4 separate regions of the Homo sapiens genome follow, and regions 2, 3 and 4 are each reported to be linked to region 1. Evidence: microRNA targets listed by miRTarBase, many of them from high-throughput screens and not tested one by one. Region 1 holds a microRNA gene; each other region holds the end of a gene's coding sequence.
What was found. The annotated mature microRNA hsa-miR-2114-3p reads CGAGCCUCAAGCAAGGGACUU and lies in region 1 at 1,916-1,936, opposite strand. An mRNA with a match to its seed (bases 2 to 7 or 8) in the 3' UTR can be bound and repressed. Matches are read on the target gene's strand: a 7mer-m8 pairs with bases 2 to 8, a 7mer-A1 pairs with bases 2 to 7 and ends in A, and an 8mer does both.

Region 2: miRTarBase lists FABP7 as a target of hsa-miR-2114-3p. The part of its 3' UTR that is shown has no 7-base or 8-base seed match.
Region 3: the mRNA of GLRX3 is a reported target of hsa-miR-2114-3p. The part of its 3' UTR that is shown has no 7-base or 8-base seed match.
Region 4: the mRNA of PLCD3 is a reported target of hsa-miR-2114-3p. Seed matches in the 3' UTR shown: 7mer-A1 at 2,066-2,072.

What each region holds. Positions count from the first base shown.
Region 1 is chrX:150,222,870-150,229,987 of GRCh38, reverse strand. MIR2114 (microRNA 2114) reads right to left here and starts at 1,984; the gene lies at 1,905-1,984. RefSeq lists enhancers at 3,549-4,134, 4,135-4,722.
Region 2 is chr6:122,783,158-122,790,275 of GRCh38, reverse strand. It overlaps FABP7 (fatty acid binding protein 7), which reads right to left. Exons shown (of 4, transcript NM_001446.5): 4 at 6,202-6,559. The coding sequence ends at 6,509. It overlaps SMPDL3A (sphingomyelin phosphodiesterase acid like 3A), which reads right to left and starts at 1,018. Exons shown (of 8, transcript NM_006714.5): 1 at 818-1,018. The coding sequence starts at 929. RefSeq lists enhancers at 207-706, 707-1,208 and a silencer at 698-992.
Region 3 is chr10:130,178,500-130,185,617 of GRCh38, reverse strand. It overlaps GLRX3 (glutaredoxin 3), which reads right to left. Exons shown (of 11, transcript NM_006541.5): 11 at 5,946-6,276. The coding sequence ends at 6,226. It overlaps LOC124902561, which reads right to left and starts at 5,505. Exons shown (of 2, transcript XM_047426136.1): 1 at 5,297-5,505; 2 at 1-1,750.
Region 4 is chr17:45,106,910-45,114,027 of GRCh38, reverse strand. PLCD3 (phospholipase C delta 3) reads left to right here. Exons shown (of 15, transcript NM_133373.5): 12 at 423-589; 13 at 771-906; 14 at 1,016-1,165; 15 at 1,324-5,069. The coding sequence ends at 1,412. It overlaps NMT1 (N-myristoyltransferase 1), which reads right to left. Exons shown (of 12, transcript NM_021079.5): 12 at 5,012-7,118. Among named protein-coding and RNA genes, the nearest start is that of MIR6784, 4.0 kb to the left of the region's middle. RefSeq lists enhancers at 368-1,232, 1,233-2,098, 6,668-7,118.

The sequences.
Region 1 (7,118 bases):
TAGATCCTGTCTCCACAGTGGCATGATGAGGGGTGGGAACATCAGGTTCAGAAAAGGTCTTTCTGCTCTCAGCTTCTCACAAGCTTAACTGAAGCCCCCCGCCGGGGTGATAGAAGATATGACTTCCCCTGAGTTTGGTAGAGGCAAGCATTTCCCTTTGAAAGCTTGTTGGTCATTGGTCATCTCCGTGGTCTCTTCTAAACCCCAAGAGTCATCCAGGGCCATGCACCCAGGGGCTTTTTCCACCTCTCCATTCAGAGCCTTTGATGCCCCTTACACACCTCTTATCAGCTGTTGAACAAACTGTGACCTGTCTCCAAGAATGCTGGCCAGCTGAGGCTGACAATGGGGCTTGGCCAACCAAAGTGATATGGATAGCAACTGGCAGAGGGCCAGGATGGCATAAATGTCAAAAGGTGCTTGCACTTGCTGCTGTGACTGCTAGCTGTGGTCTTAAGGTATCTTGCAGAGGAGGGGGTAAAGGATGGTCCCAGAGGCACCAAAAGGGGCAACAAGCACAGACATTTTTAACTGCCACTCAGAGAACAACAACTCTGTGCCAAGCCCTGTGCTGAGGGCTCTACACTCACAATCTTCTTCATATACACATGGGTCTCACTGAAACCATAACACAGCAGAGTGGGAAGGGATATTTTAACCAACTAAGGTGTTCACTTGCCAGTGCCTGGGATCCAAAGTCAGCATAGCCACTCTATACGCTCAATCATTGGGAGAGGGTAGGAGGAGCCAGTTGGCTTAGTGACACATTTAACTTGGAGTACATTCATCAAGACATGCCTGGAAAAGGCCACAGAGGAAAGGCTCCAGAGAGGAAGATAGCACTGGGTGACTGAACTGAGGGGACCACAGCTTCATAAGAAGGGCAACAAGAACCAGGCTCAGCACTTATTCTGGTGTTCACTCAACAGCATACAATGTCATCACATTCACTCTCTTACTGGAACCTCCTAGGGCGCCCAGGAAGTCAGCAGGGCAGGAGTCTTCTCCCCTCTGAACAAATGAGGAAAGTAAGGTTCAGAGAGGTGAGGTGACTTTACTTGCCAAAGACCTATTACTGGTATGGTAGGCTAAATAATGGCCCACAAAGATGTCCACATCCTAACCCCTGGAACCTGTGAATATGACTTTATATGGCAAAAGGGACTTTGTGTATGTAATTAAGTTAAGGATCTTGAAGTGAGAAGGTTGTCCTAGATTATCTGGGAAGGCTGTGAATGCAATCACAAGTGTCCTTATAAGAGGAAGGCAGAAGGAGATTTGGCACAGACAGAAGAAAAAGGGATGTGATGACAAGAGCTCCATGTGTATATCAAGGATTGTGAGTGTAAAGCCTTCAGCACAGGGCTTGGCGCAGAGTCATTCTCTGAGTAGCAGTTAAAGCAATCTGTGCTTGTCACCCCTTTGGTGCCTCTGGGACCTCCTCCGCAAGATACCTTAAGAAAGAGATTGAAACGATGTGCTTTGAAGATGGAGGAGGGGGTGATGAGCCAAGGAATACAGGTGGCCAACCTGAAAAAGGCAAAGTAATGGATTCTCCCCTCAGAGCCTCCAAAAGCATCCAGCCCTGTTGACACCTTGATTTTAGGCCAGTGAAACTGATTTGTTTTGGACCTCTGACCTCCAAAAGTATAATAGTAAATTTGCATTGTTTTAAGCCACTATGTTGGTGGTAATTTGTTATAACAGCAATGAGAAACTGATCCATCTGGTGAGTGGCAGAACTGGGACAGAAGCCAGTCATCTCATCACCCAGGCAAAGGCAGACGCCATCATCTGCTTCTTGGCAAAGTTTCCCAGGGCCTGGATAGATGTGGGAGTGGAGGATGGGAGGACTTCAATAGGAGGCAATGATGGTTCGGAAGCAGGAAGCTAGCTGCTGGAAGCCACCAGCTTGAAGTCCCTTGCTTGAGGCTCGTCATGTGATTATCCGACCGCTTCAAGGAAGGGACTAGGAGCATGGAGGCAGAGGCCTGTCTTTGGCCCCAGAAGCTGGGACGTTTGATCCATTGCTGACTGGGTGAGGGTCCTGCTGATTGAGATGGAGAGTCCTTAGAGGCAAGACTGGACCGATGACTTCTTGAGGTGCTTTTCAGCTCTCAGGTTCTGTCAGTCCCTCTTCATGGAATCCTAGGTGCCAAAAGCAGACCCAGGAAGCCTGTGGCCCTGATAACCCAAGGCAACCTCTGTCTCTCTAAATGTTCCTGTGGAACCGAGTAAGCATAATCCCAGAGGGCAGTTTGGGACAGCTCACACCCTTCCAGTGGCGGTGAAAATTGGTCATTCCCCTTGGAGAGAGGAGGCGCTCTTGGCAATTTTCCAGAGCTCTACCCTCCTTCCTTTGTGCCCAAACAGCTGTGGGCAGATCAGGCTGGGGGTAGAAAGGAATGAATTCTATTTTCTTCCCTCCCTGAGGTACTCCATGTGGTCACAGAAGGCTGCACAGGAAATATAACGGTTGACAGACGTGCGGTGTTTTGTGATGTGAAAATTAAAATCACCAGGAAATGTTCACGTTCTCTCTCTCCTTCTCTCCCCCCCTCCCCTATCTTCCTTCCTCTGAGCCTTTCTCTCTCTCTGTTCTCACTCTTCCTCTGTTGCCTTTTTCCCCCCAGTTCATTTTAAGTCCCTCAAACTTCCTACCTCCAAGAACAACTCTCTAGTTGAGGCTTGGACTTTACAACTTTCACAAATCACTTTGAATCCTTAAGGTGCCTACAGACCTCTCAGTTTGAGCAATTATGGGAGGGAGAACAAAGAATCAGGGTGGGCGAGCTTCCAGCCACCACTGCCATAAAGTTAAGTGACAACTGTTCACTCCCAAGCCTCTGAGTCTGGACAGGTTTGAAAAATTTGTTTTAATCTCAAAAATCTATTCCCAATGAGCAATTAGAAGCCATTTCCTTGAGCTCTTACTATATCCCAAACTTCGGTTTAGTTAAATTTTGTGAGGTTCAAATTTTGCACCTTGAGACTCTACTTTTCTCTAAATTTCACAATTTAGGGATAAGGGTCTGTTTGTATTCAGCACTGATTGGAATGAAAACATCATTGAGCTTGCCAAGCTGAGACCTGGAATACCACAGCATGAGGTTCATATGTTCTGAATGAGCAGGTTTCAGAAAGCTGAGCACTTAGATGGTGAGGCGTGTGACTTGTAAGATGTGCTTTCTGTAGGGACACAGGCCATCCCCACCGCTGCACCTTCAGCATCTGTAAATGGTACAAGGGCTAAAGTACTTGCACGCAGGCATTTGGATTTTCCCCTGTGTATTATTATTGGCGTTATCTAAGGCAATGTCCCTATCTTACTTCATAGGTCAAGAGTATCCCCAGGGCCACCCAGCAATGCCTAGGAATGAACTCCTAGAATGAAAAACACTTTGGGAGATTCTTCTATCAACCTTCCCTTGTTCTATAAATGTGGACACTCAGGCCTGAAAGAGGGGACAGGCCCTGCAACTTGAGATGGCTCAGCAGGACTGGGACTCAGGTCTAGCTCGTACTCTCCACCCCAGGCCTAGATACTTGTCCACTGTGACTACCTCCGGGAGCCAGGTGCCAGCCTGGGAGGAGCCATATCTGTTTTGGAGCAATTGCCCCGGGCATAGCAAAGAAGGGGGTTGAGTATGAGATAGTATAAGGATGGCATGTATCCTTTGGTAAACAACAAATCTTGGGGCTGGAAGGCTGGTCAAAAGTCAGTCTGGAGACTGGTTTTCCACAACAGAACGTGCTGCGAAAGAGTTGTGGGCAAAACTCGGTTTTGAAAATTGAATCTTTAACCCCCCTGGGTGCCATCTATTGCAATCTTATGAGAACTACTTTTGTGAAGCAAAGGGTCTTCTTGTAATGCAAATTTCCACTCCCTAATTGGCCCGGTGTGTAACTTCTATGCCTTCAATTGCTGAAGGGGGCCAAGCCCCTTTGACACCGGTTTTTGTTTTGGTTTAGCACAAAGCAGGTAGGAGGTAGGGTCAACTCGCACCTCCCTAATGCTGCCGCTGCTGCCTCCGGGCGGGAGAAGACCCACCTGGGCTCCAGGGCAGAGCTGGGCCAGCTTATCACCTCCCCTTCATCGCCCTGTGGAGGTCTGCTGCAGAGTAGTTAATCGGGAAGCTGGGAGTGCAGGTGGCACTCTGTGCCACCTGGAGCCATCTCCGAGAGAGTGCCCGCATCCTCCAAGGCTGGAGAGGAATACCAATTGCACGGTTACTGGGCCCCCTCAGGAGCCCACAAGAGGAAATTAAAAGGCATACACACGCCTGGAATAAAGGACCCTCTTCTTGCAGCTAATCACTGAAATTGGTCACTGGGTTGTCCCCTCCCCCCTTTGGTGAAAGACATGGTCTTTCTCTTGTTCTGTTCCATCACTGCGTTCTTAGAAAAGTGTGAGGAGGGGGGCTAAGCTTTGCACGGGCATCCTCCCATCCCCGCCCTCAAGGTCTGCCTTTCTCTCAGAGTCCTGGCTTTTCCCAGCATGGGGGGCATTTGTTTGTCCTGTCTGATGCAGGAGAAAGGTCAATCCCAGCCCCTAGGCTATGCAGGTGGGAAGAGTGGCCTGGCATCTCTTAAGACTGTCTCCTGCATGGCCCTTTGCAGGTTGTAAAATGCTTGCACTCCCCTCCCTGTATGGGCTTCACAACCTCATCAGGGCTCACAGCTGCTATTTTACCTTGAGGGCATGGTCTAAGGTGACAGACATGGTCCTCAGGATTTGAATCCAGGACTTTAGCTCCAAGGCTAGGATAAGCTCTTCCCACCCTCTGTGCTTTAGGGCCCACTGTGGCCCCAGTCCACTCGGCAATGGGAGAGCCTGTTTGCATGCCCTTAGCAAAGCCTGTGGAGCCCTGAGGGCAGGGGCAGGAAGATGGCCTTGGGGCTGCCAGGGAGATGCCTAGGAGGTTTTGGTTATTAATTAATTAATAACACTGTGTCCCAGCAGTCAGGCTGGGCTGGACCTATGGGAGATGCCCTCTAGATACCTGCTGAAAGCAAGCAGGAAAGAGCATGAGACTTACTGTCTCCTGCGTGGGAACAGGGGGCGGTGCTTAGTTTCCCCTGCTAGGCCAGTAAAAGGCTTGGGTCACCTGATGGCCAAGGCCCTGTGCCACAAGTTCTGGAGACCTGATACAAGCTGTGGTCTTGCTTCCCACTGTGGCCATAGGCACGTAGCTCCATGAGTGTTCTGAAGAGGCTCAGCTCAGGGAAAATGCAGGTGGCTGGGCCTGAGAATCTGGGGTTGACAAGAAAACCTAATATTCATACTGTAGTATATTGAATGGTGGCCCCACAAAGATATGTCTACCTGGCACCTGTGAATATGACCTTATTTGGCAAAAGGTCTTTGCAGATGTAATTAAGGATCTTGAGATACCATCCCAGATTATCCAAATAGGCACTAAATCCAATGACGTGTCATTATAAGAGAGTGGCAGGAGATTCAAGATACACAGGGAAGTAGGTAAGGGTGAAGATGGAGCCAGAGGTTGGAGTGATACGGCCACAAGCCAAAGGAACACCTGGATCCACCAGAAGCTGGAAGAAGCAAGGAAGGATTATCCCCTAGAGCCTTCGCAGGGAGCTTGGAACTGCTGACACCTTGATTTCTGATTTCTGGCCTCCAGAACTGTTGGAGAATAAATGAATAAATACATTTCTGCATCAGTGAATAAGTTGTCACTGTTTTAAGCCACGAAGTTTATGGTAATTTGTTACAGTAGGCACAGAAACCAATACAAAATAGCAACAATACCAAGGAGAGGAGGGGAAACAGGAAGGAGGAAGAGGAAGATGAAGGAAGAAGGATAAAGTCTTATTGACCATCCACCAAGTGCCATGCAGGCACTGCCCTACCTGCCTTTAGAGTGTGATCCCATTTGATGGCTATGACAACCTTGTGAAGCAGGTACTTCCCTCACTCCTGTTGTACGATGGAGCTGGCTCAGACATTCAGCAGTGAAAGCCTGGTTGCTCAGCTAGGAGAGGTGGAACCAACTGAGAGAGAAGCCCCAGTGGTGGGACTCCAGGCCTGCCTTGCTGAGCGGGCTGCTAAGGGGGACCCAGCTAGAGCCTGGACAAACAACAGGATTTAGGGAGATGCACAAGGAGCACTCAGTCTCTGGGGCTTTAGGAGAGAGAGGTCACATTTCTGACCCAGAGCTGGCCTTTCAGGAATGGGACATGGCTAGCCTAACCCAGCTCCCCTGAGCCCTCATAATAGAGCTGGCCATGGAAAACGGAGCTTCAGGCACACACAATGATCCCTGCTCAAGGCGGATCCAGACCTGGAGCTCCCCTGCCGACTGTTGTTTCTTTCCTGGGTACAGGTCTCCGTAACCTGCCAGAAGCCTGGGTATACCTCTGCCTCCCATGTTCCTTCTCTTTTCTCTCCACAGCCAATCTGGTCAATTCCCTTCCTGAGCATTTCTCTCACGCGGTGCACTCCATGGATGTGGTGGTCCCTTTCCTTTGTCTCCCATTTGCACACACAAGCATTTCTCCTGCCAGAACAGAGAAGCATCACATTTTGCTCTTGGTTATAACATGATCAGAGTTGGGAACTGGGGCTATGGGGGCAGGGAGGGGGCAGGAGGAAGACTGTTGCCTGTGACTGACAGACAAACTGGCTGTGCTAGCAGAGTGACTGGCCTCACCGCAGGCCTTTGTGGGTCGTGAGCTGGGCTGCAAGGAGAGGGTTTTCAGAGCCGCATGCTTTCCTCACCTGTTAATGCTGTGATGCACGTCACTGTCAACGGGTACCTTCAATGCCATGTTGCTGATTCTCTCTTTCTTCCTGAAAAACTATTAAATTATGTGCAGTTTATCAATCACACCATATTAAACTCGAGGGCACACAAACTTGACTGTGGCTGTATTTGCTGTTGAAGGCAGGTCCTGTGGTACTTAAGGCTGTTCTATGCATTTGGAGCAGCTGATTATCTTTTGCAATGGCCAAATACACCCATAGCTATTATTTTTTCCCAAAAATCTCTCTTATTGAAATCCTTGCAGGGAAAATGACTTTTTATTGCAAGTAAGAATTCTCTAGTCCCTAACCCTTCACTGTGCTCTTGGAATATAATGCTTGACAGTGGGAG
Region 2 (7,118 bases), not on the chromosome of region 1:
GGTTAAACAGCATACTGTGGAAGCCCAACGCCGGCGTTTCAGATTCAGTAGGTCTGGGATGGGCTGGAAATTTGCAATGCTAACAATTTTAAGTGCGGCGGCTGCTGCCACCGGTCCAGGGCACACTTAAGAGAATCACTACTGTAACGGGCACTGTGTTAAGTGCTGGGAGTGAATAAAATGGGTCCCGCCCGCAGGAAACCTAGTGGACATCCAGGTGAAATGAAGTCCCCGTGAGTTCCACGGTAGACTAAGGGGTGAGTCTACCCGAGGGTGCTTTCGCGCTCTGGCTGGGTGAGTGGCAGAAAAAGCCACTGATCTCGGTCGAGCAAGACAGAAGATAGTGTGAGTCACGCTGAAATTTACTTCCCTGAGCTGGTGGGGAAACTGCAGTCCCCCTCCATTCAGGACCGATTAGGGGCCTCTTGCTGTGCTGGACATCGGACTCCCAGCTTCCTCTTCCCTTGAGTCCCGCAGCTTTTCCTTCCTTCCCCAAGGAACAAAACAACTGAGATGCAGGATGTAAACAAAAGCCAGGCTGGCGAAATCCGGCCGACGCGCCCTTGGAGCGCCCCCACCGGCGAGGGCATTTCCCCCGCCCAGCCCCGGCCTCCCGGCTGGACGCCCTAACGCTGTAGTCCCTTGGTCGCCCTCCCCGCGCCCACCAGCCGTGGTCAACGCCGGACGCGTCAGGGGCCCCGCTAGCCCGAGCCTCTGCCGGGGGCAGCTGCCCCCACGCACTTTCTCCTGCTGTGCGCAGGCGCCGCCGCTCCGCGCTCTTTGCCGGCTGGGAAGAGAAGGGTCGCGGACAACTCACCTATCGCCGGAGGAGGATTCCTGCCGCCTGCGGGCGCCACGGGCAGCCCGAGGCCGGAGCGGCAGTGCCAGGCAGTCAGCAGGCAGCAGACGAGTGCGCGCACCAGCGCCATGGAGGGCCGCGGGGCTGACCTGGAGGTTCGGGCTGTCCCGCAGCTCCACTCGGACCGTCAGGCCTGAGGGTGAGGCGGAGACAGAAGACGGCTGCGGGTGTAGACGTCCGACTGATCACGTGCAAAGGCAGATTCCGCAGCGAGTCAGTTCGCCTGACCTTCAGCTGCTGTTTAGCGATGATCTGTTCTCGTATTTCTTAGCGTCAGTGTTTGGCCTAGGAAGGAATGTACTTGTAGAAGCTCAAATTCCGACTCGTGTATCAGTGGTGCAGTTGATGTCAAACACTGACATACTGGTGCTTGGGGATAGAGAAAGACATTCAATTTAGTAAAAGCCAGAAGGAGGGAGAACAAGATCTCTCAAATCCGTGTGTAAAAAGGAAAAAGCAGGGAGTTTTTATTCTGCTAGAGAATAAGAGAGGGGGATTTTCAAAGAATCCAGGGGAAAAGTCTGTTTCTTCAGTCTCAGATAACACCTTTGAGCAATTAGACGTCCAGGCATCCGCAGCTGGTTGCAAAGCCCTTGGAGGTATTCATCCCTTCTGCAAACATTTTTGTGACCCTGAAGTTAACCTCTTTGTTCTTGACGAGGAAGCAGTACCTCAGCAGTTTATAATTATATTGTGGAAACAAGGAGAATATTGGGCAAAAAGCGAGTGGTTAAAATGTGCAAGCAAGCAGGAGCCTGATCAGAATTTTCATTATTTCAGTCACTAAAAAATGCTGGGGTGCTGAAATCTCAACGATCCCGGTTCCATTCTTGGGCCAACCTACCCCAGCTTTAATGGGTAGGGCTCCTCAGTAGAGGTGATGCAGAGAGCCCTGAAGTATCATGATTTGAAGGAAATCAGCAAAAGTTATGGATACTGCAGTGGATCTCGAATTGAAGTCTCTGAACTGGGAACATTAGCACCACCTGGGAACTCTAGTTAGAAATGCAAATTCCCAGGCACCACCCTAGACCTGTTGAGTCAGAAACCTGCTGGAGCCCAGCAGTTTGTGTTTTCACAAGCATTTCAGGTCATGTTAAAGTGATTGTGATGTTTGAAAACCAATGCTCAAAGATACGACGTTTTGTTTTTTGTTTTTTTTAAACTGCCGGGAAGAGAAGGGTCTTAGAATTAGAACATGTTCTGAAATCATGCTTTATGCATTCCAGAGATGCATGGAAATCATAAGTAGAGGTGGTTGATTTGATGCTTCCACGGAACTTTTTTGAATATACTTCTGGCAAAGAAGTAAGTCTATACAAAGAAGTAAGCAAAGATAAGTCTGGCAAAGAAGTAAGTCTATACAAAGAAGTAAGCAAAGATAAGTCTGGCAAAGAAGCCAGAATCCCGAAACTGTGCTGGATCCTGTATTCTGTGTTCCTTCTCTCACCGTTTATGAGGATGCTGATCTCTTGGAGATGACAAGCTAATAATTTAAATTTATAGGGCGTGGAATTCCTTTGCAGAAGAAAATGCTTTCCATAATTACTAACCTCAAAAAAGATGTTGTAGAGTGTATTTCTTTCCCAGCATAGAAAGCTTTGTTTTGTATCCCATGTAATTTAATGGGAGTGTGTGTCATGAAACGGGCTTTGAAGTGGGAAGCAAGGTGCTTCCATTTTCTGTTTTGTAAACCAAAAATAAAATTTGAAGGCCCCCCACAACCATCTGAATGGACGACCATCTGTATGGACTCTTTCCCCAGTCAGGGCACTCTAAAATTTAACCTGAAAGACTGGTTCAGGCCATGAAAAAGGGGATGGGGGGGTTGGACATGCGTAATTAACATCAACATAGACCATAAGTCTGATAAGAAACATTTAAGATCTGTTTTCTCTAAAGCCTGCTACGTGGAGGCTTCGTCTGTGTGACAAAATCTGGGTCTAACAACCCCTTATCATAACCCAGACATCCTTTCTATTGATAATAACTTTTTCAATCAACCAATTGCCAATCAGGACATGTTTAAATCTTCCTGTGATCTGGAAACACCCACCCCCCGCCCAGCTTCAAGTTGTCCTGCCCGTCTAGATCGAACCAATGTAAAAATCTTACATGTATTGATTGCTGTATCATGTCTCCCTAAAATGTATAAAAGCAAGCTGTATCCTGACCACCTTGGGCACATGTCAAGACCTCCTGAGGCTGTGTCACTGGCCCATCCTTAACCTTGGCAAAATAAACTTCCTAAATTGATTGAGACCTGTCTCAGGTACTTTTGTGTTACAGTTTCAAGTCCTGCCAGGGCAGCCGAAGTCCTGCTTCAGCTTTTGGATGATTCAAAAGCTTGCAAGAACCAAAGTGCATTCCAGTGGAGGACAAGATGGTCCCTGGAGTTTCTCAGTTCACAACCTCTAGAATATGGGAGAAAATGGAGCCAGAAAAAACTGGTGAGCTGGTGAGAGAAAACGACTGTAAGGATTAACAAAACAACTTAGGAGTTTTTAGTCCAAACATTTAAAGCTAGGAAAAGGATAAATTATAAAAATAGCTCTTTTCACTCCTTTTTTTTTTTTTTCCAATTTCAATATACTTTACTGGAAGTAACTGGTTGCAAAATAGTTTTTCAGTAAGCATAAAACAAGGCATACACATTTTGAAACTTAAGAAATGTTTGAAATCCTAAAAAGTACAGTATATTAAAATTAGTGGGTAGAAACACCATCCTTCTTTCTACTCACTCCACTTTCTTTTTTTTTTTCTTAATACTCACTAAGAAGCAAAAAACTACAGTGCCCCAACATCTCTACAGGCATATCTCAACCATGGGCATATATTTGTAGGTCTCCATGTGCCAGGTGTACAAATATGTCATCGTGAGTGTGTATATCTGGGTGAGGGAAATCACATGAAAGAAGAGCAGAAGCTTCACAAAACAGCCTTAGCTTAGTTTGTATCATTGAGACCTTCGTATCATTTCAGAAATGTTCTTCCAGGGCCTGTTGGTCAAATTGCCTTTGGTCTTGGTCATTTTTCCTTTCCTTTAATTATGTTTCTTAACTATGTTAAGAAACAAAACAAAGACGGCAAACCAGAAAAGTTAGTGCATTGACAGATTGACAGTGTGAAATAGAATTTGGTTTGAAGAAAAATGATTTGCGACTACCCAGAAAAACTTAGGAAGCAAACATGTTAATTATCTTCCCTCTTAAAATCATTTGTTCTACCACTGCAACCCTTGATCTTTCAGACCATTGCATCTTTGTTTCCCATTTAGGCCACCCAAAAACCTTTTCATTCTTCACTCTGGGAGACAGTTGTTATGGAAACTGGTGCCAGTGTTATTTGGCTTCATTTTAATGAGCTAAAGATAAATCTCTATCTTTGGCTTTGTATCTTTAATAAGAGAGAGGCCAGAATCTGGGCTTCTGGTAGAGTGTAGGCTGAAATCCAGTTGTTAAACAGCCCTCCACCAGAAGCAGAGATGGTGGCTGTCAGAACAGTTGGAGCCAACAACCTGTTCATGTTGTGTTTCATGCTTTTAAAGACGGGTAAACTGAGTGCAGTGGTATGTGCCAGTAGTCCCAGCTATTCAGGAGGCTGAAGTAGGAGGATTGCTTGAGCACAGGAGTTTGAGACTAGATTGGGCAGCTAAGCAAGACCCCATCTCTTAGGAAAAAAAAAAAAAAGAAAATTTTCTCATACTTATAGCTGTAAGTTAATTGAACATTTTTTTTTCTTTTGAGACAGAGTCTCTCTCTGTCACCCAGGCTGTAGTGCAATGACACAGTCTTGCCTCACTTTAACCTCCACCTCCCGGCTCAAGCAATTCTTCTAACTCAGCCTCCTGAGTAGCCGGGATTACAGAAATGCACCATCACACCTGGCTAATTTTTGTATTTTTAGTAGAGACAGGGTTTTGCCATGTTGGTCAGGCTGGTCTTGAACTCTTGGCCTCACGTGATCCACCTGCCTCAGCTTCCCAAAGTGCTGGTGCTGGGATTACAGGTGTGAGCTGCTGTGCCTGGCCAGTTAATTGAACTTTGAATTAATTTATAAAAACTTACTAAAACACAGGGCTGATTAAAAATGAATACAGTATTACATATAAGTGCTGAAATATATTTACCTCCCTAGCCTCCCAAGAGGCTAACAAAGAAAAGGAATGATCGGGGAGAATAAAATCTTGTGTTTTTGTTTCAGAAGAAAAGTTAGCTGAAATATTAATTTTGGAGAGGAAATAAAGAGAAATATTGCAAGATTTCCAGCTCTCAATATTATTTACTACACATGAGAACTTGGACATGCAAATCTAACCTTCAATTTCCTTATTGGTAAAGTAAAAATAAATAATACCTGCCTTCTTGCTAAACATTGTATGGTTGAGAAAATGTATAAAAAGCATTTTGTAAATGATGAAATATGTAAAATATTTGTTTGTTTGTATTTCACAAATTCAGACCCCAGCCAGATACAAACAAGTATTTAATTTGGTTTGGTCAACTCAATCACCTTCCCTTTCTTCTCCCCGCCCCGCTCCACCACCCCGAAATTTTGAGTGTCTTTATGCACAGCACTCCATTTGCACTCTCATTGACTTTATCCAACTCAGTTTAGTTGTCTGGAGAAACATTTTTTATAATCCAGGATAAAATTCACTCCCTTTCTCTATTGCCTTTCAATAAGAAATTTTGATTACATGATATTTTGATTATATTTACCTTTTAATAAGACATTTTGATATACATCATTTTGTTTCTTCAAACCGTTTCTTCTAAAGACACTACTTCCACCGGGCGCAGTGGCTCATGCCTGTAATCCCAGCACTTTGGGAGGCCGAGGCGGGTGGATCACCTGAAGTCAGAAGTTCAAGACCAGCCTGGTCAACACGGTGAAACCCCATCTCTAAAAAATACAAAAATTAGCCAGGCATGGTGGTGGGCACCTGTAATCCCAGCTACTCAGGAGGCTGAGGCAGGAGAATTGCTTGAACCCGGGAGACAGAGTTCGCATGACTGCACTCCAGCCTGGGCAACAAGACTGAAACTTTGTCTCAAAAAAAGGAAAAAACGACACCACTTCCGTAGCCCAACCCACTATACAAGGCTTCTCTGGGTCCTGGCCAAATGAATTTTACCATCACAGATTCTTCATGGAAGGCTCAACCAAAACTGTGGCATTTCTGTATTTTCTAAGGCTTTTGCTTATTTTTTAAATTAGTATTTTAAACAAAGTGCTAATTTTTTCAGCCTTACTTTATGCTATAAGAGTGACTATTTTACTTAAAATTGTCTAATATAGAATTCTTAGCCAGATTAATGATATTAGAAACAACAACAAAATTTCACGTGTAAGATTTTTATTCAAATTTGATTTACATTCCAAAAGAAATTATAAAATGTATTCACTTGTTTATAAAAAAAAGGGGGGGGGGGACAAAACTTTAATTCAAATTATAAAACATGATAAATTTTCAGATTAAAATTGGGCAAGTTGCTTGGAGTAACAAGTTTTTAAATCACCATTTTCCACCTCCACACCAAGGATAACCTTCTAATTAATGATCAGCCATGTTGTAATAGGATAGCACTGAGACTTGAGGAAACAGAAAAACTGAAGAGCTCTTCCAAGCCCCGACCAGGAACATTTTTATGCCTTCTCATAGTGGCGAACAGCAACCACATCACCAAAAGTAAGGGTCTGCAAGGTTCAAAAGATAATCAAATCTTTTTATACAGGAACTTCAGTCACCGAATTTTAAAGATCATCATATATGTGATCTAAGTATTATGCAAAAGAATGACATTTACAAACATTAAATGCTGCATAAGCATTTCACATCTTGAAAAGAGACCCTATATTGATATACAGTTTATGTCTCTGAAATGAGAATGAAGCAAACACTGGGATTAGCACTTTAGATTCAAGTCAAAAGAATTTCTTTAGCCTTAAATTATCAGGGTAATTGAGCAGATCAGGTGTGAGAAATGGAGTGTCTACGTTGTTTTCTCAACTATCTGCTTTAAAAGTGAATGAGTTTTATAATAGGTTTACATAACAGTTTTCAATTCTTAACCTAGATAAATTTTGAATAGCCATTAGAAAATCCAGTCATTTGAGCTGATGGTATTTGGAATGACTTGTTCCAAAATCAAGAGGAACATGTAAAGGTACAAATATTCTCCTTGTTTTGGTTGTCATGGTTTAGCCTATGTGAACGCAGGTAGGTAGGTGGATAGGATGCGGAACATCAGCTCTA
Region 3 (7,118 bases), not on the chromosome of region 1:
CCCCATGACTAGTTCTGGTTAATAGTCACTTTCTTTCTACCAGACCTTGCTCTTGTCAACTGGACTCTGTAACTGGCGAGCACCCGGATCTGAGGTCCACTACAGGAGCCGGCCACAAAGACATCCTCAACACTACTTTATCTGAAAATGGATCCCAGACCTTCATTCCAGAAGGGCCCTGCCCTGTACCTGGAAGGAAGAAAGCTACACACGGGGCAAGGCTTCCCCATCCAGTCTACGATTAGATCCTTCCCTTCTGTCCAATCACATTTCTGCACAGCCACCCACTCTTCGTTGAATCTGAGTGTGAACATGCAGTTTCTCTTGGGTTTTTATTTCTGAAGGCTCCTGTGTCACCTAAGTCTTTACATACATTTTATACTTTTCCTTGGTAATCTATTCTAGGTGTTGGCTGTGCCCCTTGTGATGGGTGAGGAAAGGCATCCTCCTTTCTGCCCCTACAGACAGGTGACAGGGCTCTCTGAGGGCATCCAAGCTCCTTCTGGCTTTTCTCCATTATATCGGGGCTCTTCCTTTTAAGCACAAAACATAATACAAGAGCATAAAAATCTATTTTAATTCTTTTAGAAATTACCACACATGCCTTCTTCCTAAATAGACAGCTCCCATATCCAGGTTACAAGCTTGGGCTCAACGACACGGCTAGGGGTTAAGGAACTCGCTCCTGGGGACAGCAGGCTGGGAGATGAGGGGCAGAGAAACCCTTACCTTACCACATGGCAGGCATCCCCCGGGCAACCCTGAACAAGGGCAGGCTCTCTCTCTAGGAGTTCATATGGAAATCTGTAACTTCCTCAAATAAAACTTGACTTTTTGAGAAAAGATGAACACTGTACCACTGACAACCATTTAGATGAATGACCGTGGGGAGAACAAGAAGGTCTTTTTCAGTCAGAATTTGCGGGTCCTGGCAATTAGGTTTTTTTGTTTTTTTTTTTTTTTCTGAGACAGGCTCTTATTTTGTCACCCAAGCTGGGGTGCAATGGCACGATCACTGCAGCCTTGACCTCCTGGGCTCAAGCAATCCTCCCATCTCAGCTCCCCAAGTAGCTGGGACTACAGGTGCACACCACCATGACCAGTTAATTTTTTATTTTTTGTAGATATGAGGTTTCGCCATGTTGCTCAGGCTGGTCTCAAGCTCCGGAGCTCAAGCAACCCGCCTGCCTCCGCCTCCCAAAGTGCTGGGATTACAAGCACGAGCCATTGTGCCCAGCCTGGCACTTAATTTGTGAAAGCCACACCATTTCTAACAGGAACATAAAAATACCAGGTCATTTCAGAAGCCCCAGACTTGGGCAACTCCACTCACTAACTTGCAGCGTGCTACCTCAAAGCCAGTGTGGCACGAGGCTTCAAGCACAGCACTGGGGCTGCGCTGACAGATCCTGGTTCAAATCCCAGCTCCCAGCCCTAGAACCTTACAGTGACCTAAGTGCACCAAGACTCCCTCAACGTGTTCTGCTGCAGCCAGTGAGTCAGTGCACGTGCCCGGCCCATGAGCTAACTGAACTCATGGCTTCTGAATCTGAATGTCTCTAAATATCAGACAAAGCTGTATGAAAAAAGCCCCCAAGACTCTGAAACCAGATGGGATGCCAGTTATAAAACTTGTCTTTAAAGTTACCCATCCTGGTGAATGAGGCATCAGGAAGCTACTGCAGCTTGTGTCTGATTCAGAAAGGTGGATACCTTTCCTCACCCATCACAAGGGGCACAGCCGACACTCCTATAACAAAAGAGATTAACAAGAGAAAAGCGTAAGATTTATTTAAGTCTTACGTGACACAGGAGCCTTCAGAAATGAAGACCCAAAGACTCAAGAGAAACTGTCCATATTTACGCTGATTCAACGATCAGTGGACGGCCGTGAGGAAATGTGACTAGACAAAAAGGGAAGGGTCTAGGTCCTCAAACTCAACATCTGAAATGTGTATAAAACAAGAATTCATCTGCAAATAATCAACTTACTTTTATTTAGAAAGGTTTGAATTTTGAAAAGTAGCAACTGTCAAATTTAAGAAAACTGATCTTAGGTCAGGCATGGTGGCTAGGGCCTGTAATCCCAACACTTTGGGAGGCTGAGGTGGGAGGATCACTTGAGCCCAGGAGATTGAGACCAGCCTGGGCAACATAGTGAGACTTCATCTCTACAAAAAAAAAAAATCAAAACACAGCCGGGCATGGTGGCACATGCCTGTCATCTCAGCTACTGAGGAGGCTGACGGGGGAGGATCTTGAGCCTGGGAGGTCAAGGATGCCGTGAGCCATGACTGCACCACTGCACTCCAGCCTGGGTGACAGAGGAGACCCTGTCTCAAAAAACAAAGGAAAAGAAAGCTGATTTTACTTTAAAAACTAAACCAGAAATCATGTTTCATATTGCAATCTTAAGCTTGTAACTTTTGACTGTCAAGATAGGTCTTATTTGTATAATTCTTTCCAATAAGGCAGATAATGATTACCAAGCGCTTAAAATGTATTACAGTTGTTTCAGAGATTAAACATTTTTAAGTTATTAAAATGAGGCTTTCTAATTATAAAAACATGCTATTTTTTAGTCTACTCCTCAGCAGACTTAAGACATTTTTGTAAAGAACGGAAATGGCAAATAACTTTTTTCCTTCCTTCTTAATGATCAATCCAGTGGGACCAAGGTGGACTTCCTGATGGTTCTGCAAGGCTCAGTGTTCAACAAAAAAAGGCAAAAACATGTAAGTCACACGTGGGCAAGGCAACTGAACCCACCAGGTCCTGTTATTTTATTAAGGAGCATTTACATTATGATAGCAAGTTTCAACACATTCATCAACAAGGCGGTCTTCAAATCAATCAGTCAACCCCCGGAGTTAGAAAGTAGAGTCATGAGGAAGAGCTGCTTGGCTGTAGGAAGTAGGGTTAATGCCCTCTAATCCCCGGAAAGGGGCAGACTGAAGCCAGAGCCAGAATCCTGGCAATTCACCAGTTTCTCATCACAGGTAAAAAGGCAACTGCATCCCACATAGCTCTGAGGGGGAGGCCTCCCGGGAGGGGCAAGCCTAAGGTTTGGGTGTCCCAGACCCTGGATGGAAGCCCCAGCTCCCAATCTGTAGCTGTGCCCTTGAGATAGCTGCTTTCTCCCCTCACCTGCAAAGGAGAATTCCACAAACTACCTAGCCTGTTTCACTGGTTTTTTTCTTTCCATTTTTGATCAAGAGTTTTTATTTTAAAAAAAAGTTCATTCCTGCAGGCTTATTTCCCCTAAACAGATAACAATTCCCTAAGAAGCCTTCCTACAAGGAAGGCACAAACACGCAAGTCAAGAGGAGTGAACAGCCCTGCCTGTATGAGGGCCTTTCTGGTTCCTATTCAACCAGCCTCTTCTAGAAAGGAAATTCTGACATTTGAGGTTTGGTTTCTAAGAGTTAACAGGCAAATAGATGGCAGCCCCCATCATCAAGAGCCTCCCCACAGCACCAGCTCTATCCTAAGCACCATGCAGCTTTAACCTGGCAGGATGCCACACAAAGCCCCACTACATACTCAAAAGAGCAGGCCAAGAAAGGGAGGGCAGGCAGAGCTGGCCACAGGCTCTGGCCAGGGTCCACGCTCCCAAAAACGCAGCAGTGCTTCTCGGAACAGAAATGTGTCCAGACATGAAAACCCTCCATACAAAGCCTGCCTGGAGGGTCCCTCCCACCACAAGCACCCAACGAGGCCTCACGTGTGGGACAACATCCAAATGACACATTGTCACCTTTCCTTGTGAACTGAACAGATTTCTCAAATTCAGAAAACAACTTTGTCTCTAGAATTTGGGGATCAGAGAGGATTTCAATTCTGATAAAACATTTCTACAAGAGCAGGCTCAATTATAAACCCATACGCAAACTCTCTTTTTGTTAGAAAATTCAATAGGGGAAGTTCAGCTGGGCTCAAGAATCTTACTTTACTTCCTAAAATACACTAATAAAATCAGATTAGGAATGGCCATCAATCCGTTTGCATGAACAAGATGTCTTGACCTTCCCCATGTCTGGCCAGAAACAACTAGAAAATAGAAATATGCTGCACTGTCACCCCAACTTACCTGGAGTCAGTGGAGCCAAAGACCATCAGACTTTAAGAGGATAAAATAATATAGGACACAGGGGCAACTCCCCAAAAACTCTCAACACTCATCCTGACTCAAACCAGGATGGCTCAACAAAGGATAACGTCACTGATATCTTATGTCCTGCAGGAGTCAACCAAAGGGAAAGGAGGTCTTCCTAAAATGCACTAACCACATGACATTATCAGAGCAACGGCCTCTGGCCAGAACAGTATTTCCCAAATTGGAGGCAGCCATTTATGTTAAAAGTTGTGCATTTTATTTATTTGTATGTGCATTAGAAAAAAACAGGCTTACTGAGTCTGTGATGCCAAAGATATTCTTGCTTAGGATAAAGTGAAAGTAAAAGTTGACTTAGAAAATATACTAGGACAGTTGGCACTTAGAGAAAAAGCAGTATGCAAATGAATTAAGTTTGAGATAAGTATACCAAAAAAGTATGGAGCCCTCCTCCATGACACACATCCCTGCGGCCAATGGCTTCATAAAATTTCAGTAAAAATTCTATTTCTATCTACATTTAAGAAGTTTTACTTATACAATGATTTTCATTTTAAATAGAAACAAGGAAGTTCTCATGGACCAATGCTATAAACAGCCTTATCTAATTACACAGAATGCCAAGAGACTCCACCATCATGGGTGTCCTAACACCTAGCAGGAAGCAAGGCCATGTCGAGCTTTATGACTTGTACAGACCACCCTCTGTAACACACAAATCAGCACTCTACTCTTTACACAATCAAAACAGAGAAAAACAGCCTGAGCTGAAGAGACAGCAGCAGTGTGGAGGTGGTGGGCTAATCTTACCTAGGAATAGATGCATTTCATCCTGTTTATTCTTGTCTGAATTACTGACTTCTGTTTCCCTTTCCTTATCGCCACCAGACAGTACCAGCATCTTAACTGCCCAAACAAACAGGGTGGGGTAATATATGAAGAGAATGTGCCACAAGTACAAAAAAAACTAAGAACCATGAGGTGAATTTAGCCATCCCATTTGAAGCCTGCACTGTGGAAGCCTAGTGGAGCAACTATTTTTCAAATATGTTAGATTCAGGATCAAAAATATTGTTAAAATTTTCATGGACTTCAAACTGTTCTCAATAGGAGGACCAAAGGAACCTGAACGACCAAATCAATGTTTATTATAAGTAAGTGGACCAAGTGTGGTGGTCCTACCTGTAAATTCCAGCACTTTGGGAGGCTGAGGCAGGAGACCTCATCTCTACAAGAAATAAAAAATTAGGTGGGCATGGTGGTGCACGCCTGTGGTCCCAGCTACTCAGAAGGCTGAGGCAGGAGGATCGCTTGGCCCCGAGAAGTCGAGGCTGCAATGAGCCATAATCGTGCCACTGCACTCCAGCCTGGGTGACAGAGCCAGACCCCGTCTGAAAAAAAAAAAAAAGTAGTGATGCTTACAACAAATGACAATACTTTTCCATTCTTTGTCATGACTACCCATTCTTCTAGACCTTATGAAAAAAGTGCTTGTTGTACCATATTCAATGAGAAATCATTTTCCTCTTAAATGTTTCTTGATAATTCACTACTGGTGCCTTGTGAAATGAGTCTCTAAACCTGCAGACATCCTACACTGCCTCTGCAATGTAACCAGTGCCGAGCTCAGCAATGACATCAGAAACTAATTTCCGTTGTTTTTCCTAAGCTGTAAAGAGATCTTTCACCAGCGAGGGGAGCCATTGTGTTGGCAAAGGAGTTGTCCTAAATACTGTTGTGTACTGCATTCCGCCACAGTTCTCCATTTTCTGAAGACTGCCTTTCTTAACTGCTAGAAGATACTCATGTACTAAGAAAAAGAGATTTAAGGTGGGTTAATTATAGTAGCTGTATGTTTAATACTGCTGTAAAGATACACTTTTTTCATACAATTATTGTTAATAATTTGAAGATGTTTATTGCATTCTATTTTTGGTGGGAAAAAAATGTAACATACATTTATTTAGCACGACATTGTGAAATACACAAAACATGTAACTGAGAAAGCAGGAATTTTCTATTCCTAGTCCATTTCTGAGGACTAAATCATGAACTGCTCCCAATGTAATTAAATATTTCTTACAATAGTTGGGCACCAAGTTTAAGATTTATTAATTTTCTCCTCTCAGTATAGGCAGCAATTCACCATTTTCTTTCAGTTCCTAAAAATAAAAAACAACAATAATAATATGTATATGCATATATAAAAAGATGGAAACATCTAAACAATCACAGCTTGTATGTATATCTGAGAACCAAAAGAAACACCTATTGGATTAAAACTCCAGTCTCTTAACACTCTCAAACTAAATGAGCCATAAACCCTGAATACACTATCAGGTTAAAAAATTTAACAAGGTATTCTTGGCCAGGTGTGGTGGCTCACAAATGTAATCCCAGCACTTTGGGAGGCCGAGGTGGGCAGATCACTTGAGGCCAGGAGTTCAAGACCAGCCTGACCAACATGGTGAAATCTGTCTCTTAAAAAATAAATAAATAAGGCTGGGTGCAGTGGCTCATGCCTGTAATCCCAGCACGTTGGGAGGCCGAGGAGGGCAGATCACCTGAGGTCAGGAGTTGCAGAACAGCCTGGCCAACATGGTGAAACCCCGTCTCTACTAAAAATACAAAAATCAGTTGGGCATGGTGGCGGGCACCTGTAATCCCAGCTACTCAGGAGGCTGAGACAGGGAGAATCTCCTGAACCCGGGAGGTGGAGATTGTAGTGAGCCAAGATCGTGCCATTGCACTCCAGCCTGGGCTAGAGCGAGACTCCATCTCATTCATTCATTCATAAATAAATAAATGAAGTTAAGGTATCCTAAAACCAACAGATTGTTTAGTATTAGGAAACGCAGCAACTGGAGCCAATGAAGCCCCTATTTAAACTGTAGCAATAAATAAGGAAAATAAATCAAGTGACTTTCAAGGTTGAAGAATGAAGTAATGTGGCTGGGCGCAGTGGCTCACACCTATAATCCCAGCACTTTAAGAGGCCAAGGGG
Region 4 (7,118 bases), not on the chromosome of region 1:
TCCCATGTCCCCCGGACACACACAACCCCCACACACCTGGCAGTCCCACTAAGTCAACACTGACAAGGGTGGGCTCTGGGGGACGCTGAGCCCCACCAAAGGAGGGCTGTATCGTCTCCTTGGGGTAAGGATGGAAACCCCAGGCTTCCTCAGACCCCTGGCTCTGACCCAAGCCTGGCCCTGAGGGTGGGGGCTTTTTTAGTACCTCCCACCCCAGTCTTGAGGGATCCCAGGGCAGAAGTACAGGTGACAGTGGGGGCTGGGTCCATGACCCCCTCCCCTAAAGTCATGGTGGGAGCAGAGCAGCACTAAGCAGACAGTGGGACCCCAGGCCCTTTGTAGAGAGGAATGCAGTCCCCTGAAACTGAGTAGTGAGAACAGGGCCGCTAAGAGCCCCTGCTCTGACCCTGCTGTGTCCACAGTGGCCTTGAACTTCCAGACGCCAGGCTACGAGATGGACCTCAATGCCGGGCGCTTCCTAGTCAATGGGCAGTGTGGCTACGTCCTAAAACCTGCCTGCCTGCGGCAACCTGACTCGACCTTTGACCCCGAGTACCCAGGACCTCCCAGAACCACTCTCAGCATCCAGGTCAGCAGGCTGGAACGGGCCCCAGTGTGGGGTCAGACTGGTTCTAGAAAGGCTCTTTGTGAGGTGGAGGAAGGCAAGGGAGGCTGGGGACATTTGGAAGTGAGGGTGGTGTGAGCTTGAGGCCCATGAGGGGATGGCCAAGGTGGGCGTGGGCCCCAGCCACTCCCTCCCTCACCCACAGGTGCTGACTGCACAGCAGCTGCCCAAGCTGAATGCCGAGAAGCCACACTCCATTGTGGACCCCCTGGTGCGCATTGAGATCCATGGGGTGCCCGCAGACTGTGCCCGGCAGGAGACTGACTACGTGCTCAACAATGGTGGGCAGCCACTGGCGGAAGTGGGGTTGGGGGAGACTGCAGAGAGCGAAGGGTGGTGCAGGGTGGGTCCTGGGGCCCCTGGGCTCTGACTGCCATCCCTGTGCCCTAGGCTTCAACCCCCGCTGGGGGCAGACCCTGCAGTTCCAGCTGCGGGCTCCGGAGCTGGCACTGGTCCGGTTTGTGGTGGAAGATTATGACGCCACCTCCCCCAATGACTTTGTGGGCCAGTTTACACTGCCTCTTAGCAGCCTAAAGCAAGGTTGGTGGAGGCTGGTGGGGATGGAGAGGGATGTGGGTCCAGGTCCTGCAGACCCTGTTCACCTTTGTGCCTCGAATTTCCTGCCCTGAAGCAGGCCCGGGCTGGGCCAGACCCCCAGGGTGCACAGAGGACCTGAGGCCTGGCTGTCCTCCCTACAGGGTACCGCCACATACACCTGCTTTCCAAGGACGGGGCCTCACTGTCACCAGCCACGCTCTTCATCCAAATCCGCATCCAGCGCTCCTGAGGGCCCACCTCACTCGCCTTGGGGTTCTGCGAGTGCCAGTCCACATCCCCTGCAGAGCCCTCTCCTCCTCTGGAGTCAGGTGGTGGGAGTACCAGCCCCCCAGCCCACCCACTTGGCCCACTCAGCCCATTCACCAGGCGCTGGTCTCACCTGGGTGCTGAGGGCTGCCTGGGCCCCTCCTGAAGAACAGAAAGGTGTTCATGTGACTTCAGTGAGCTCCAACCCTGGGGCCCTGAGATGGCCCCAGCTCCTCTTGTCCTCAGCCCACCCCTCATTGTGACTTATGAGGAGCAAGCCTGTTGCTGCCAGGAGACTTGGGGAGCAGGACACTTGTGGGCCCTCAGTTCCCCTCTGTCCTCCCGTGGGCCATCCCAGCCTCCTTCCCCCAGAGGAGCGCAGTCACTCCACTTGGCCCCGACCCCGAGCTTAGCCCCTAAGCCCTCCTTTACCCCAGGCCTTCCTGGACTCCTCCCTCCAGCTCCGGAACCTGAGCTCCCCTTCCCTTCTCAAAGCAAGAAGGGAGCGCTGAGGCATGAAGCCCTGGGGAAACTGGCAGTAGGTTTTGGTTTTTATTTTTTGAGACAGGGTCTCGCTCCGTCGCCCAGGCTGGAGTGCAATGTTGCAATCATGGCTCACTGCAGCTTTGAACTCCCAGGCTCAAGCGATCCTCCCATCTCAGCCTCCTGAGTAGCTGGGACTACAGGCACAGGCCACCAAACCTGGCTAATGTTTAAATTTTATGTAGAGATGGCGGGGGGGGCGGGGGTCTCCCTATGTTGCCCAGGCTGGTCTCGAGCTCCTGACCTCAAGTGATCCTCCTGCCCCAGCATTCCAAAGTGCTGGGATTACAGGTGTGAGCCACTGCCTGGCCTGGCCGTAGGTTTGTAACTGTTTCATAGAAGAGCCCTGGAGAAGACAGTAGAATGAGCCTATCTAGTTTAAAAAATAAAGAAGCACGTTGATTTCACCACCGCCACTCCCTGAGCACCTCTATGCTGCCACCCCCACAGGCCCATGAGGAGGGACAGGGCTGGATGAGTTTCTTGGGCCTCTCCCCTCAACAGGGCATGGACTTGGCTAAGACAGCCAGGGGGTGGCAGCAGGAGATGCCACAGCTCTAAATAGCCCGATCCCTGCTCCTGGCTTAAAGCTGCTGCGAGTATCACAAGACTGTCTGAGGATGCCAATTCAGCAGGTCAGCGCCTCCCCACAACACACACACACACACACACACACACACACTCACACATACACAGAGGGGCCTTGAATGAGGAGGAGACAGGAGTCTGAGGGACCCTCAGACTGCCACTCTCCAGGCTTGGCTGGGCTCAAGGCCCCTGTCTGCTCAGTAGGGCAAATCCCAAGGACACGGGCTTCCCTTCCTCCAGCCAGCCAGCCTTTTACACAAAGGCTGGAAACGCTGCTTGGGCCGCCTCTATAGAAATGCCAGGAGAGCGCACTGGACACTAGGCGACAGAATCTGGAGAAAATCCTGCACCCGCCCCTGCCAGCAGGGTGAAATGTGGAGGCCTGGTGTTTTAGGTTCTGCCAGCCAACAGTGCCGGCACTGGACAAGGGCAGAACTTGACATTAGTCCCCAGAGGGTGGCCTGGAACTGGGCTGGGATAGGCCTTGAACTGGCCCCAAGCCCCACAGAAACCAAAACACAGGGCTGGGGCAGACTCCACCTTCTAGCAACTCCAAGAACTAATGCAGAAAGTGGCAGTGTCCCCCGCTCCTTCATGCTGGGAGTGGCGTTTGGCTCTGGTTAATTTGTGTGTCTGAAAGAGGATAATCAGAATCAAAAGGGCCCAGAAGGAATGGGCCGAGCCAGGCGGGCCGGGCCAGGCAGCCCGGGCATCTGGCACTCAGGGCTGTCAGAGGGTCAGGCTGCCAAACTGCAGCCTCAGGATGGGAGGCACAGTGAGGCTAAGTCCAGTTTTAGCAAATGAAGAGCCATTAGCATTGCCCAGCCCCTGCAGAGCCAGGTCTGGCCAGGGGCTGGCTGGGGGGTCTGGGTCAGGTGAGCACCAGACCCAGGGCTGAGTGCCCATCCTGCTTGGCTTCTCTGGTTTCGTATCTGGTACCAAGAGGAAGGGGTGAAGGCTAGGATGAGGGCCCAATACTGAGAAGGCTGCCTTGAAAGGGCAAGAGTCTTTTTTTTTTTTCTTTTGAGACAAAGTCTTGCTCGTCCCCCAGGATGGAGTGCGATGGCGTGATCTCGGCTCACTGCAACCTCTGCCTCCCGGGTTCAAGCGATTCTCTTGCCTCAGCCTCCGGAGTAGCTGGGATTACAGGCGCCCGCCACCATACCCAGCTAATTTTTGTATTTTTAGTAGAGACGGGGTTTCACCATGTTGGCCAGGCTGGTCTCGAACTCCTGACCTCAGGTGATCCACCCGCCTTGACCTCCCAAAGTGCTGGGATTACAGGCGTGAGCCACTGCACCCAGCCAAAAGGGCAAGAGTCTTTAAGGAAGTGAACTGGGAAGCAGAAGCAAGGGAGAAATCACAGGGTTTTTTTTTTGTTTGTTTTTTTGAGATGGAGTCTCGCTCTGTCGCCTAGGCTAGAGTGCAGTGGCACGACCTTGGCTCACTGCAAGCTCCGCCTCCCGGGTTCACACCATTCTCCTGCCTCAGCTTCCCAAGTAGCTGGGACTACAGGCGCCCACCACCATGCCCGGCTAATTTTTTTGTGTTTTTAGTAGAGACAGGGTTTCATAGTGTTAGCCAGGATGGTCTCGATCTCCTGACCTCGTGATCCACCCGCCTCGCCCTCCCAAAGTGCTGGGATTACAGGCGTGAGCCACCATGCCCAGCCTGAAATCACAGCTTTTTATCCCAGAGGCCCATGGGTAGAAACAACACATAGGGCTATGTTCTCTCAGCCCAAAGCTAAGGGCAGGAAAAAAGGCATGGGCCATAGGAGCCTGAGTGACTTGGTTTGGGACAGGAGGGTTGGGGGGCTTTAGAGGGGTCAGGCAGGTCCTGTGTCCTCTCAGTTTCCCTGGAAAGGGGCTTGGAGGCACCAGTCATGGACCTGAAAGGATCAGGGGGTCAGGGAATGGGTAAGTTCCAGAGGATGAGAAGAGGGGGAATGGGAAGTCTTAAACACAGCTACTGGGGCCCAGCAACTTGCCATGTTAAAATGCACCCCTAGTGACTCAAAGAACCACCCGGCCAGTGGTGCAGGAGGAGAGATGTGGCACCTGGGCACAGTGGGAAGGCACGGGGCCTGCACCTCCACCAGAGGAGCCACTGCTGACCTGGACCAAGGGGGCTGCTCTGTGCCCAGCTAGGGAAGCCTGGGCCGGCTCCTGTGCTGAGGTGCTCAGGTGCTGGCTGAGAGCCCAGTTGCTGCTCTAACTTGGAGTGAACCTGGGTCAATAGCAGCTCGTCTCTGGCGGGTGGGAAGGGTCTGACAACACCAAGTTTGCCCTGGAAGAAGGGCAGCCTTAAAGGAAGGCCTTTGGAAGCTGGCCTGGTGCTGTGGGCTTGAGGGACTTTGTGTCCAAGCCCTGTCGTCCTGGCTCCAGCCTAGGCTCCAGCACTCCATTTCTTCCACTGCCACCTGCTGACCAGGAATACCAGGACAGAAGGTTTTGTTCAGCTGCTTTCTTTATTAGAAACAAGTGAGATGTATTGAGCAGAACAACAATGCATTTGGTATTTCCTCCCCGACCCTGGAAATGGATGCCCCCCCACAGCCCAAAGAAAAGCCAAGACAAAAAGGTGAAGCTCCCCCGTCCCTGTTCCCAGACATGGCACCTGCCTGCCAGCCAGTCAGTATTTTTTAATTTAATGGAATGAAATTGTCCTCAACAGCCTCCGTAGGTGTAGTCGGCTTGCAGGCCCGCCTTCATTTTGCAGCAGAGTAAAACTGAAGCCTCAGGCCTCCCCTGGTTCTGGGGAAGGTGGGCCAGGCCATCAGAAGGCTGCCTCACAGGTGGGTAGGCACTGACGGGAGGGACACTCCTGCTCCCTCCCCTGATCTAACATCTGGTTCCCCTCCTTCTCCTAGAGTGCAGCTCCATGCAGTTGTCCAAGGCCTTTGGGCCCTTAGGTTGGTTAAATGCTGGTCGTCTTTGGGGAAAGAATTCAGGACCACAGGGACTCCCCTAGGCTTCTGAGAGCCAGCAAGTAGGGGGGCGACAGCAGTTAGACAGGAGTTGTGGGGAAGGCCTGACATTTTCCATAAACCTGGTGTTAAAGTAGCTGGGTGTGGGCTGGCCTTCAAATAAGACAGAAGCCTCTTCAGAAATAGGCATGTGTGGGGAAACGAGCCCTATACAGGCCTCGATCCGGAGTGGAGGCCTCCTACTCAGCTCTCTCCCTACACACAGACTGGAGTCCGTGGTCAAATGCAGAGTCAATCCAAAGGCAGGAGGTAAAGGTCGTCTTTGAAACATGGCAGCTGGGAGGACTGGGTGGCAGAGGGTGGGGGCCAGGCCCAGGGAGGCCTTCCAACAGCAGTTGCTCGAGGACGGTTAGCGTGAAGGCCTCAGGGTCCTTCCTTTGCTTGGTTTGAGACAGCCATGGCGCTACCACACTGCAGGGCTCCTGTGGGGAGGCCCTGACCCCCGGGATGGTGCTCTCTGAGCTGAAGTCCCAGAAGGGGTTGAATGAAGAACGCAGGGACTACTGGGACAAAAATCAGATGAGCAGCAAGCAGCCCACAAGCCAAACCCTGCACACCTGGGCAGAGTTCTCACCGCAACATAAAGCAGAGTCCGAGGAGCCGGCCACCTGGTTTCAGTGAGGGAGATGCTGGGGCCTTTGCCAGGAGATCTGTTTCTTCCAGAACAGCCACTGGGGCCTCACCGTTTCCATTCCATGACCTGGGTCAACCGAAACAGAGCTCACTCCAGAGATCCGCACAGCCCAAATCTCAGAGGCAGCTCAAGCTGGGACCTGGCCCAGAACAGATCAAGACTAGGACAGGGAGCCTTTCCAAGTTCCAGGTTCCCCCAAGGTAGGAAAGACTTGGGCACTTTGTCCTTTGATATCCTCAAAGGTCTGGACAGGGTGAGCCACTCTGGGGCTTGAGGCACTGTGCAACTGTTGTCTGTGGGGCTGCAAAGCAAGCCCCTGCCTCTCCGACTCCTCCCACCTGTGGAATGCAGTGCGCATCTTGCTAAGAACAGCAGCTTCTTTGGTCTCAGTTTCTTGGAGTCAAGGAGCAAACGTCAGTCACGATTGCTGGGGCCTGCAATTTGCAGCGCAGGAACAATGGGAAAAGGGAGGGCCCTGCAGGCCCCTGATGAAAATCCACCTTAGTGGAGTTGCTGGCTCTAGCAGCAGTCTGCAGAGCGGGCAGCATTCCCACGGGTGGCACGGCCCCCATCCCAAGCATACGATGTCTTCTGGTTTTGGAAACTCTGCAGAATTAGCCTCTGACAAACCACACCAAAACCCACAGCCTGCAACAAGCCCCTGCTGGCCTGTAGAAAGTGGCTTCGGTGAGTGGCACAGGGCTGAGCCTGGCCTCCTGGCTAAGGCTTCATTCCTGTATGAGCGGAGAGGTGACGGCAGCAAGGAAACCCGCACACCACACGTCATGCTACCTCCTTCCCACCACTTGCTTCTCTCTAGAGCAAAAATTACATCCAAGCCTGGAAGTACAATTTCACAGCCCAATTTTGCCCGGTCACTTGGCTGAACACCACTCCAGAATGCCTACATCGACAGCCATGTGACCAGAGGCTTG